Homo sapiens: one gene and its partner. The protein of the gene in region 2 interacts with the protein of the main gene of each other region in a pairwise test. Each region holds a gene or a part of one and is shown on either strand. Other genes may lie near its edges.

Region 1 (4,098 bases), on a different chromosome or scaffold from region 2:
TTGCTTTTCCTAAATATAAACAGCACCTCCCCAACCCAAATAACCTGAAAGTGGATTAAGGTTGGAGGAGGATTGGTAAAAGCTGATTAATAGATTCATTCCCACTTAAATGACAACCCTCCCCTCTTGCCTTCTATCCATCGAAGTTCTAAAGACCCTGCTGTGATTGCTTTTCTGGAAGGCTTTTGTCACTGAAGTGTGTGAAGTTACTCCTGGTTTGAGGAGTTGGAAATTTTACACGAGTCAAGGATTGCAGTGGCGGCAGCTGGGACGCATCTGTAACGGTGTTAGTTTGCCTGAAAGCAGAAAATTAGCAACCCCAAAGCCCAGCTTGGCTGTTTAGTCTGTAGAAATGACAGGGCGGAGCAGAAAGAGAGGGAGAAAGGAGACTCACCCCTGGAAAGGGAGTTTGCCGTCGAAAACTGGGCTTCTTCTGTTGGAAATCTTAGAGACACTTTCAGTGCAGGTCTTTGGCCTGCTCAGGATCTAGGGAAGGCCTGGCACAAAGGAGAAGGTGCTCAACAAATACGTACAGAAGGGGAAAATGAAGGAAGCAAGAACGGGAGGAATGTTCCTGGTCACCTGGCCCTCCTGTGCCCCACCTCCTTTTAGATGAGCAGACATACAGGGAGAACTCAGAGCAAGCCCAGTCATGGGAAAAGGAACCTCCCTCCCTACTCTCAATAAGGTAGAGCCTAGAATAAATGACAATCTGAGCAAAACTTTACTCATCTGAAGCTATACAAAATAGATTTGGAAAGGCAAACCCTGTATTCACTCCAAGATTGAAAATGCCACTTCAAGTTTTTAGTAACCGTTATTCAATCCAATTGCTGGAAAAAGTTTTCGAGATAATTGAAGTTCATGAAAAAGAGAAACAAACACCCCCAAATCAGGTGATTCCTCACGCCCAGGATTGGGAGGGCAGGTCGGCTCTTGGTGCCAGCTGAAAGGGATTTCTATTTATTACCACTATTTTAAAATGTGTGTCCAATTGCAAAAAGTTGGACTGCCTTGGTCACTTTTGTGTGAAACACTCCTTAAGTGATCCCTTGTTTTAGCCTATCTAGAGAGTGCAAATGAGCAGGTTGGGGACCCACTGCCGCCCCAGCAGAAATACAGTAAAACCATTAGCGTCAAAAGGGGCAGTACACAGCAGATTGTCTGTAGAGGAAAGGCGGAGGTTTGTCCAGACAGCCCCCGCGGGGGTTGCGGTGGGATATGCTAATAGTGCCTGGCCACTGGGGCCGGCCTCCCTCCCGAAAGAATATATAAAGAACCCCAACCCCAGCTTGTCTACCCAGGCCAACAGGCGTCTGCCCTTGTTAATTACCGGAGCGACAGACTAGGGAGCTCCGCCCGGGATTTGCCCATCGGCGGAGGCGCCAGGCTCCCGTTTCTCCCCATCCCTCTCGCTGCCGTCCAGGTGCACCGCCTGCCTCTCAGCAGGATGGACGTGATGGATGGCTGCCAGTTCTCACCTTCTGAGTACTTCTACGACGGCTCCTGCATACCGTCCCCCGAGGGTGAATTTGGGGACGAGTTTGTGCCGCGAGTGGCTGCCTTCGGAGCGCACAAAGCAGAGCTGCAGGGCTCAGATGAGGACGAGCACGTGCGAGCGCCTACCGGCCACCACCAGGCTGGTCACTGCCTCATGTGGGCCTGCAAAGCCTGCAAGAGGAAGTCCACCACCATGGATCGGCGGAAGGCAGCCACTATGCGCGAGCGGAGGCGCCTGAAGAAGGTCAACCAGGCTTTCGAAACCCTCAAGAGGTGTACCACGACCAACCCCAACCAGAGGCTGCCCAAGGTGGAGATCCTCAGGAATGCCATCCGCTACATCGAGAGCCTGCAGGAGTTGCTGAGAGAGCAGGTGGAGAACTACTATAGCCTGCCGGGACAGAGCTGCTCGGAGCCCACCAGCCCCACCTCCAACTGCTCTGATGGCATGGTAAGCAATAGATCTGGTACCTGCTAGGCTACCCTAATCTTTTCTAAAGTCCTTACACCTCATTTAACCTGGTGTGGTGGGGAGAGTGGGGTGGAGGCAGATGCTGAGTTGCTTTAAAAGAAGAGAGGGGTCCACATTTAGAAAGACTCCCCAAACCGCTGCTGAACAAGATTTTAGTTTAACTTTCTAGCAGGTTCTAGGTGTACACTGTAATCGAGTGTTGACATGGAAGATGGGTGGCTGTGAATGATCACTCAGATGTTTTCTCCATTCCTGAATTTATTTTCAAAATATGCCATCTGTGGATCATGCCCTACGCTAATATCTAAAGGCACCGTTTCTAACTTAATGAGGAAATGGAAAGAAATACCCACACGGCCCCAGTTCCTGCTCCAATGAGGCCTGGCTGAAAGATGTTGATGCATTCTTTTTAGAGGGCGTTTGCTCCAAGGCTGCCAGGTTTTAATGTGTTTTTGCCCTGGGAAAGTGTTCTTTCCCTGAATTAGTGTGGCTTTCTTCTACTCCAATCCATTTTGCATGGTTAACCCAATGCACATTGCTGCTGAATTCCACCCCCTCTTCCCTTTGCTGCTGCTCTCCTCTTCTTCAAGCACAGAGATTGACCTCAGTGCCCTGGGAATTTGGAGAGGGCTAGCCCTTCCTAAATCAAGGCAGTGAAGGTGATTGACAGTGTTCGGTTACAGAGCTGGTGGGCAAGCACAGCCTCACCTTTGGTCAGAACATCTTTTGCCAAGACCTGAAAACAAACTTTGTTGTGTGTCTTGTATTATAGCCCGAATGTAACAGTCCTGTCTGGTCCAGAAAGAGCAGTACTTTTGACAGCATCTACTGTCCTGATGTATCAAATGGTAAGAATTGATAACTTCACAGGAGTTTAAAGACCAGTTCAACCTAACAATTCAGCCTATAAGATTCTGTTCTTGCTGATAGTATTGGGGAAGGGAGAATGGAAGTGATGGTTCTTATAGGGAGGCTTTGGTAAAGCAAAATAAACACATCTTCTGCTCCAAATCCCCCTAGCAGACACGCACGCACACATGCATACACACATGCACACACAATGTTGCTTGAAATATTATCAGGGGGCTTCCCCACTCCCCACGTCTACCCCTCAGGAATTGCCAGATATTTGTTGCAAATTTCTATGTTAGGCTTTCTGTGACCACCTGACCTCTGGGTGTCAGAGGAGCTGACCTACAATTTAAGGAGCAACATAAGCAAATCTGTCTATCTTGGGCTAATTATTTTTTAATGCTTTTCTCCTTGTATCCTTAGTATATGCCACAGATAAAAACTCCTTATCCAGCTTGGATTGCTTATCCAACATAGTGGACCGGATCACCTCCTCAGAGCAACCTGGGTTGCCTCTCCAGGATCTGGCTTCTCTCTCTCCAGTTGCCAGCACCGATTCACAGCCTGCAACTCCAGGGGCTTCTAGTTCCAGGCTTATCTATCATGTGCTATGAACTAATTTTCTGGTCTATATGACTTCTTCCAGGAGGGCCTAATACACAGGAAGAAGAAGGCTTCAAAAAGTCCCAAACCAAGACAACATGTACATAAAGATTTCTTTTCAGTTGTAAATTTGTAAAGATTACCTTGCCACTTTATAAGAAAGTGTATTTAACTAAAAAGTCATCATTGCAAATAATACTTTCTTCTTCTTTATTATTCTTTGCTTAGATATTAATACATAGTTCCAGTAATACTATTTCTGATAGGGGGCCATTGATTGAGGGTAGCTTGTTGCAATGCTTAACTTATATATACATATATATATATTATAAATATTGCTCATCAAAATGTCTCTGGTGTTTAGAGCTTTATTTTTTTCTTTAAAACATTAAAACAGCTGAGAATCAGTTAAATGGAATTTTAAATATATTTAACTATTTCTTTTCTCTTTAATCCTTTAGTTATATTGTATTAAATAAAAATATAATACTGCCTAATGTATATATTTTGATCTTTTCTTGTAAGAAATGTATCTTTTAAATGTAAGCACAAAATAGTACTTTGTGGATCATTTCAAGATATAAGAAATTTTGGAAATTCCACCATAAATAAAATTTTTTACTACAAGAAATATTTTGGCTCATGATCTTTTAAAATAACACCCCAATGGA
Region 2 (4,790 bases):
TTAATTTTAATGGCTACATGTGGACATGAACCTCGCAGTCACTGTGTTGGGCAGCACAGCTCTATCATATTCTATCACGTTCTATAGTATGAATATGTTACCACTTACTTGTTTGTCCCCTGATGATGGGCCTTTAGGTTGTTTTGGGTTTTTGCTTTTGCAAATAAAATCTCAAGGAATATGCTTAAATATGTGTTAGTAGCTGTTTACTGTGTTACTATACAGCTTTTTATTAGTAGTTGTATACTGTTCAAAATTGTTGTCATTCTGTTCCTTTTGACCCTTCACCAAGGTGGAAAGATCACTTCCTCCAACACTGTCAGTTTCAAGGCTGCCCCTCTAATTTTCAGGTGTGCATGTAACTCTTGGCTTGGGTTAGATCTCAGGGAGTTCTGGCTTTCTCACTAAATGAACCTTTAGTATCATAGAAGTCTGAAATGGCACACCTAGCCACAGGAAGGACCTAAGCTCAAGCTCCAGTGGGATTAAACAAGTGCTTCATGTGAAATAACATTTATGACAGGCATGTAGAAAACAAAACAATAAGCTTAAGATAATCACTAACTCCAAGAAAAGCGAACAATTAAATGAGAAAGGACATATGACACTGTGCGTCATGGCTCTAACTAATTGTCCTAACGTAGACAGGCTTTTGGTGTCTATGCCCTTTGCTCCCTGCTGTTATGCCTGTGAGTGCTTTATGTTACATGAAAAAGAGATTTTGCAGATATGATTATTGTTATGGACCCTAAAATGGAAAGATTATCCTGGATTATCTGGTGGGCTCAATGTAATCTTTTGAGCCCTTAAAAGCAGAGAAATATCTCCGTCTGGGATTATTCAGAGAGTTGCTGTGGAGGAAGTCAGAGAGGGTAGTGAGATTCAAAGTGTGTTAAGGGTATCTAGCTGGCTTTAAAGATGGAGGGGGCAAGGTGGCTCCTAGAAGGTGAAATTGACCAGCAGCCTGCAGGGAACAGGGACCTCAGTCCTTCAACTACCTGGAACTGGATTCTGTCAACACTCTGAATGGGCCTGAAAGTGGATTTTCCCCCGGAACCTCCAGATAAGAGCCCAGGTCAGCCAACCCCTTGATTTCGGCTTGTGAAACCAGAAGCAGAGAAACCCACTGAGCTTGCCAGGCCTCTGACTTACAGAACTGTGAGATAATAGATTTGTGTTGTTTTAAGCTGCTAAATTTATGGTAATTTGTTATAGCTGTGATAGAAAACTGATACCTAATATCAATTCATCCAAAAACGTATACAGGTGATTCTGTTTCGTAGGAGGAGAGTACTAAAATAAAACTAAATTCTTATTTTGCATGACAGGAAGTCAAAAGATTATATTTAAACCTTATATAAACCTAAAAATAGCAACATAAGCATCTGTAGAAATATGGCAGTAAATATTAAAAGAAACAGCTAGAAGTGTTATAAGTGATTGCTTTTAGAGAGCAGGAATTGGGAATGATGGGGCTGGGAGTGGGCTGATAATTTTTAAATTTTAACCTTGGAGAGAACCATATGGTGTTTAAATGCATGTTCCTGTGTTACTGCAATGAAAATGAAGAGGTCCCATCACTACCAATGTAAGATGTGCCCATCTCTCTAAGGGCCTGAGCAAGTGGGGTAGGGCCTGCCCCTGCCTGCCAGGGCATGTAGCATCCCCTCCTCTCTAATCACCAGGGTGGAGGAGAGCAACAGCAAGCTCCTGGAGTCAGAGAGGAAGCTGCAGGAGGAGCGACACCGCACCGTGGTGCTGGAGCAACATCTGGAGAAGATACGCCTGGAGCCAGGGAAGGCATCAGCCTCCCAGAGAGCAGCTCCCAGGACCAAAACAGGTAGGGGCCAGGGCAGTAGTCTCAGTGCAGGGGGTGGAGGCAGTGTTGCTGCTAACAGAGGAGCCAGGCAGCTGCACTGTTCAGCCCATCAGTGAGCATGTGGGAAGCAGAGCTTCCATCAGGGTGGAGCTCTGCCTGCCTCCACTGTGGGGTGTTCTTTTCCCCAGGCCTCTCAGTCAGAAGCAGGAGCCCCAGAGCTCCATTGCCTCGTGTGGCCCTGGCCTGGCCACCTGTAAGCCCTCAGCATGAGGTGGCAGTGCTGAATGCCCCCAGCCACCCTAGCCCTCAACCCTCTATCCTAAGCTGACTTCATTCAAAGTGGTCATGGGGCACAGCTGGTCTGCTGGGGAAGCCCAAGCAACAGTGGCTGAAGCAGGGGAGGAGTCCCTTTGTGCCTCCTGCAATGGTCAAGTTGATATAAGCAGGAAGTAGCCTCACCAGAGGTTTGGGGACCCAAGCTCCCTCTGTTTTGTGGCTCCACTGTTCTCAACATGCAGCTTCCATCTTCTGGTCTACAATGACTGCCTGAGCTTTCCCATCAGCAGCAGGAAGGGGAGAAGGGAAGGAGACAAACTTCTCCTTACCTTTTACGGTTGCATATGTCACTTCTGCTCTCATCCCATCAGCCAGACAGTTGGGCATAGCCAGGTGCAGAGGGAAGCTGGGAAATGCTATCCTTAACTGAAAAGTCTATCGCTCGAACACAGTGGTTCTCAAGGTGCAGTATTCAGATGAGCAGCATCAGCATCCTGTGGGGCTGGGGCGAGCTGGAGGATGCCAGAGCCAGAAGCCATTTCTGGGATGGCTGACTCCCAGGGAGGAAGGGTCTCCAATGTGGAGGGGCTGGGCCTGCCTCTGTCTGACCTCCCATCCCACCCATCCCAGCCCCCTCCAGGCTGGAATGCTGGAGGTGCTGCTGCCCCCACTGCACCCTCTTTCAACACCCCAGTAGCCCCCCAACCCCTCCCCAGCCAAGGATGGTCAGACCCTTGGTCTCAGTCCTCAGCCCAGATGAGGTCAGAACGTTTCAGAAGGGTGTGCCAGAAGTAGGGCATAAAGAGGGTGTTGGGGCCACTTGCTTTCTCTTCTCCCACCAGCAGGGCCAGGAGCTTCTGAGAATCCAGGCCGGGAAGGAAGGGTCTCTGGGGCTTAGCCTTGCTGACCCTCTTGGACTCTCAGGAATATGTTCCCTAGGAGTGTGGCTTCTCCAGGCTGGGGCTTACCTCCTGTAGGGCAGCAGGACTTCCAACCAGGGAGAGCTAAGCCACAGCAGGCAAGTCACTTTGTTCCCTGCTGGACAGTGAGGGCAGCTGCCTGAGGGAAAGTGTCCAGGTGGCCTCTGCTGCCTACTGGCTTTTAACATGGGCAAAATCCTGCCCCTCTGGTGAGCAGAGCACCACTTACCCGCCTCCCCCTGGCCCATCCGTAAAATGAGGAGGCTAGATTTATAATTCAGTCCCCCATGGCAGTCTCACTCCAGTAGGGGAGCTAGACATCTGAGCAGAGATGGAGGAACTGGGAGGGGATGTGGCCTGCCGATCCCTGAGGGAAAGACAAGTGTCGGTGCTTGGAAGCTTAGCTGGATGCTTGGAGGAACAGGGAGGAGGCAGGGAGGCTGGAGTGGTCCAATCACACAGGGCCTTGAGAGCCAAATAGAATTCACTGAGGCTGCCAAAGCTCTAGAGGCATAAACTATTATCCTTTTTTTCAGCTAAGGAAACCAGCTCAGAGAGGCTGATAGTTTGCCTGAGGCCTCTCAGCAGAGGGCGAAAGCCAGGTCTTCTGATACCAAGTAATTTACTGTGGGTCACACCACCTCTGAGGGCCTTTTCAGTCCCGAGGTTTTCTGATGCTGTGATTTTGCCCAAGTTCGCCACCACCAGTTGAGCTTTGTCTTTTTTTTTTTTTTTTTTTTGGAGACAGAGTCTCACTCTGTCCCTCAGGCTGGAATGCAGCGGTGCGATCTCAGCTCACTGCAACCTCCACCTCCCTGGTTCAAGCAATTCCCCTGCCTCAGCCTCCCAAGTAGCTAGGATTACAGGGGTTCGCCACCACACCCTGCTAATTTATGTATTTTTAGTAATGATGGTGTTTTACCATGTTGGCCGGGCTGGTCTTGAACTCCTGACCTCAAATTATCCACCCCCCTAGACCTCCCAAAGTGCTGGGATTATAGGCATGAGCCACCGCACCCGGCTGAGGCTCTTTTTGATTCCCTGTGTCACAGGGCTTAGAAAATTCCATCAGGCTGAACAAGCAGTTTCCCATCCAGGGCAGCTCTAGTTGGGGATGTGGAGGTGCTCAATGCGTGGAATAAGCCAAGGGCAGCTTAGCAGTGTCCCCTGGAGCCAGGAAAGGCCCTGAAGAACACTCAGTCCAGCCCCTGTAGAGGGCAGAGCCACTCTGCTGCCTCCCCAGCAATGAGACAGGTTTACACAAGACTAGTCTTGAGGTGCATGCCTCCATGCCTGGCTAATTTTTATGTATTTTTAGTAGAGACAGGGTTTCACCGTGTTGGCCAGACTGGTCTTGAACTCCTGACCTCAAGCAATCTGCCCCCACTTGGCCTCCCAAAGTTCTGGGACCACCCCACCGTGGGCCACTTTGTCTCCTTTTTGTGAACATTCTGTACCCTTCAACTCCAGGACCCTGGATCCCCTGCTTCCTAGTATGAAGCTGATGGCCTGGATGGGGACCACTGGTATGAGGGCATCAGGTACAGTGACAGTCTAGACTCGGGCTCAGCCTGCAGGCCAGACCTCAGGCTCAGCTGGTTTCTCTTTTTGAAAACAAATTACCAGGCTGGGCATGGTGGTTTACGCCTGTAATCCTGGCACTTTGGGAGGCCTAGCCAACATGATAAAACCCTGTCTCTGCAAAAAATACAATAATTAGCTGGGCATGGTGACAGGCACCTGTTGTCCCAGCTACTCGGGAGGCACAAGAATCG

The links. The genes of interacting proteins can lie anywhere in the genome.
Region 1: the proteins of CCDC13 (region 2) and MYF5 interact in binary tests that used the Homo sapiens proteins (3 or more experiments, as listed by UniProt).

The regions. Positions count from the first base shown.
Region 1 is NC_000012.12:80,715,614-80,719,711, forward strand, and holds MYF5 (myogenic factor 5), read left to right. Parts: upstream 1-1,298; 5' UTR 1,299-1,450; coding exon 1,451-1,951; intron 1,952-2,744; coding exon 2,745-2,820; intron 2,821-3,247; coding exon 3,248-3,438; 3' UTR 3,439-4,058; downstream 4,059-4,098.
Region 2 is NC_000003.12:42,710,212-42,715,001, reverse strand, and holds part of CCDC13 (coiled-coil domain-containing protein 13), read left to right. Parts: intron 1-1,685; coding exon 1,686-1,840; intron 1,841-4,790. UniProt on the Homo sapiens protein: Required for primary cilia formation and promotes the localization of the ciliopathy protein BBS4 to both centriolar satellites and cilia.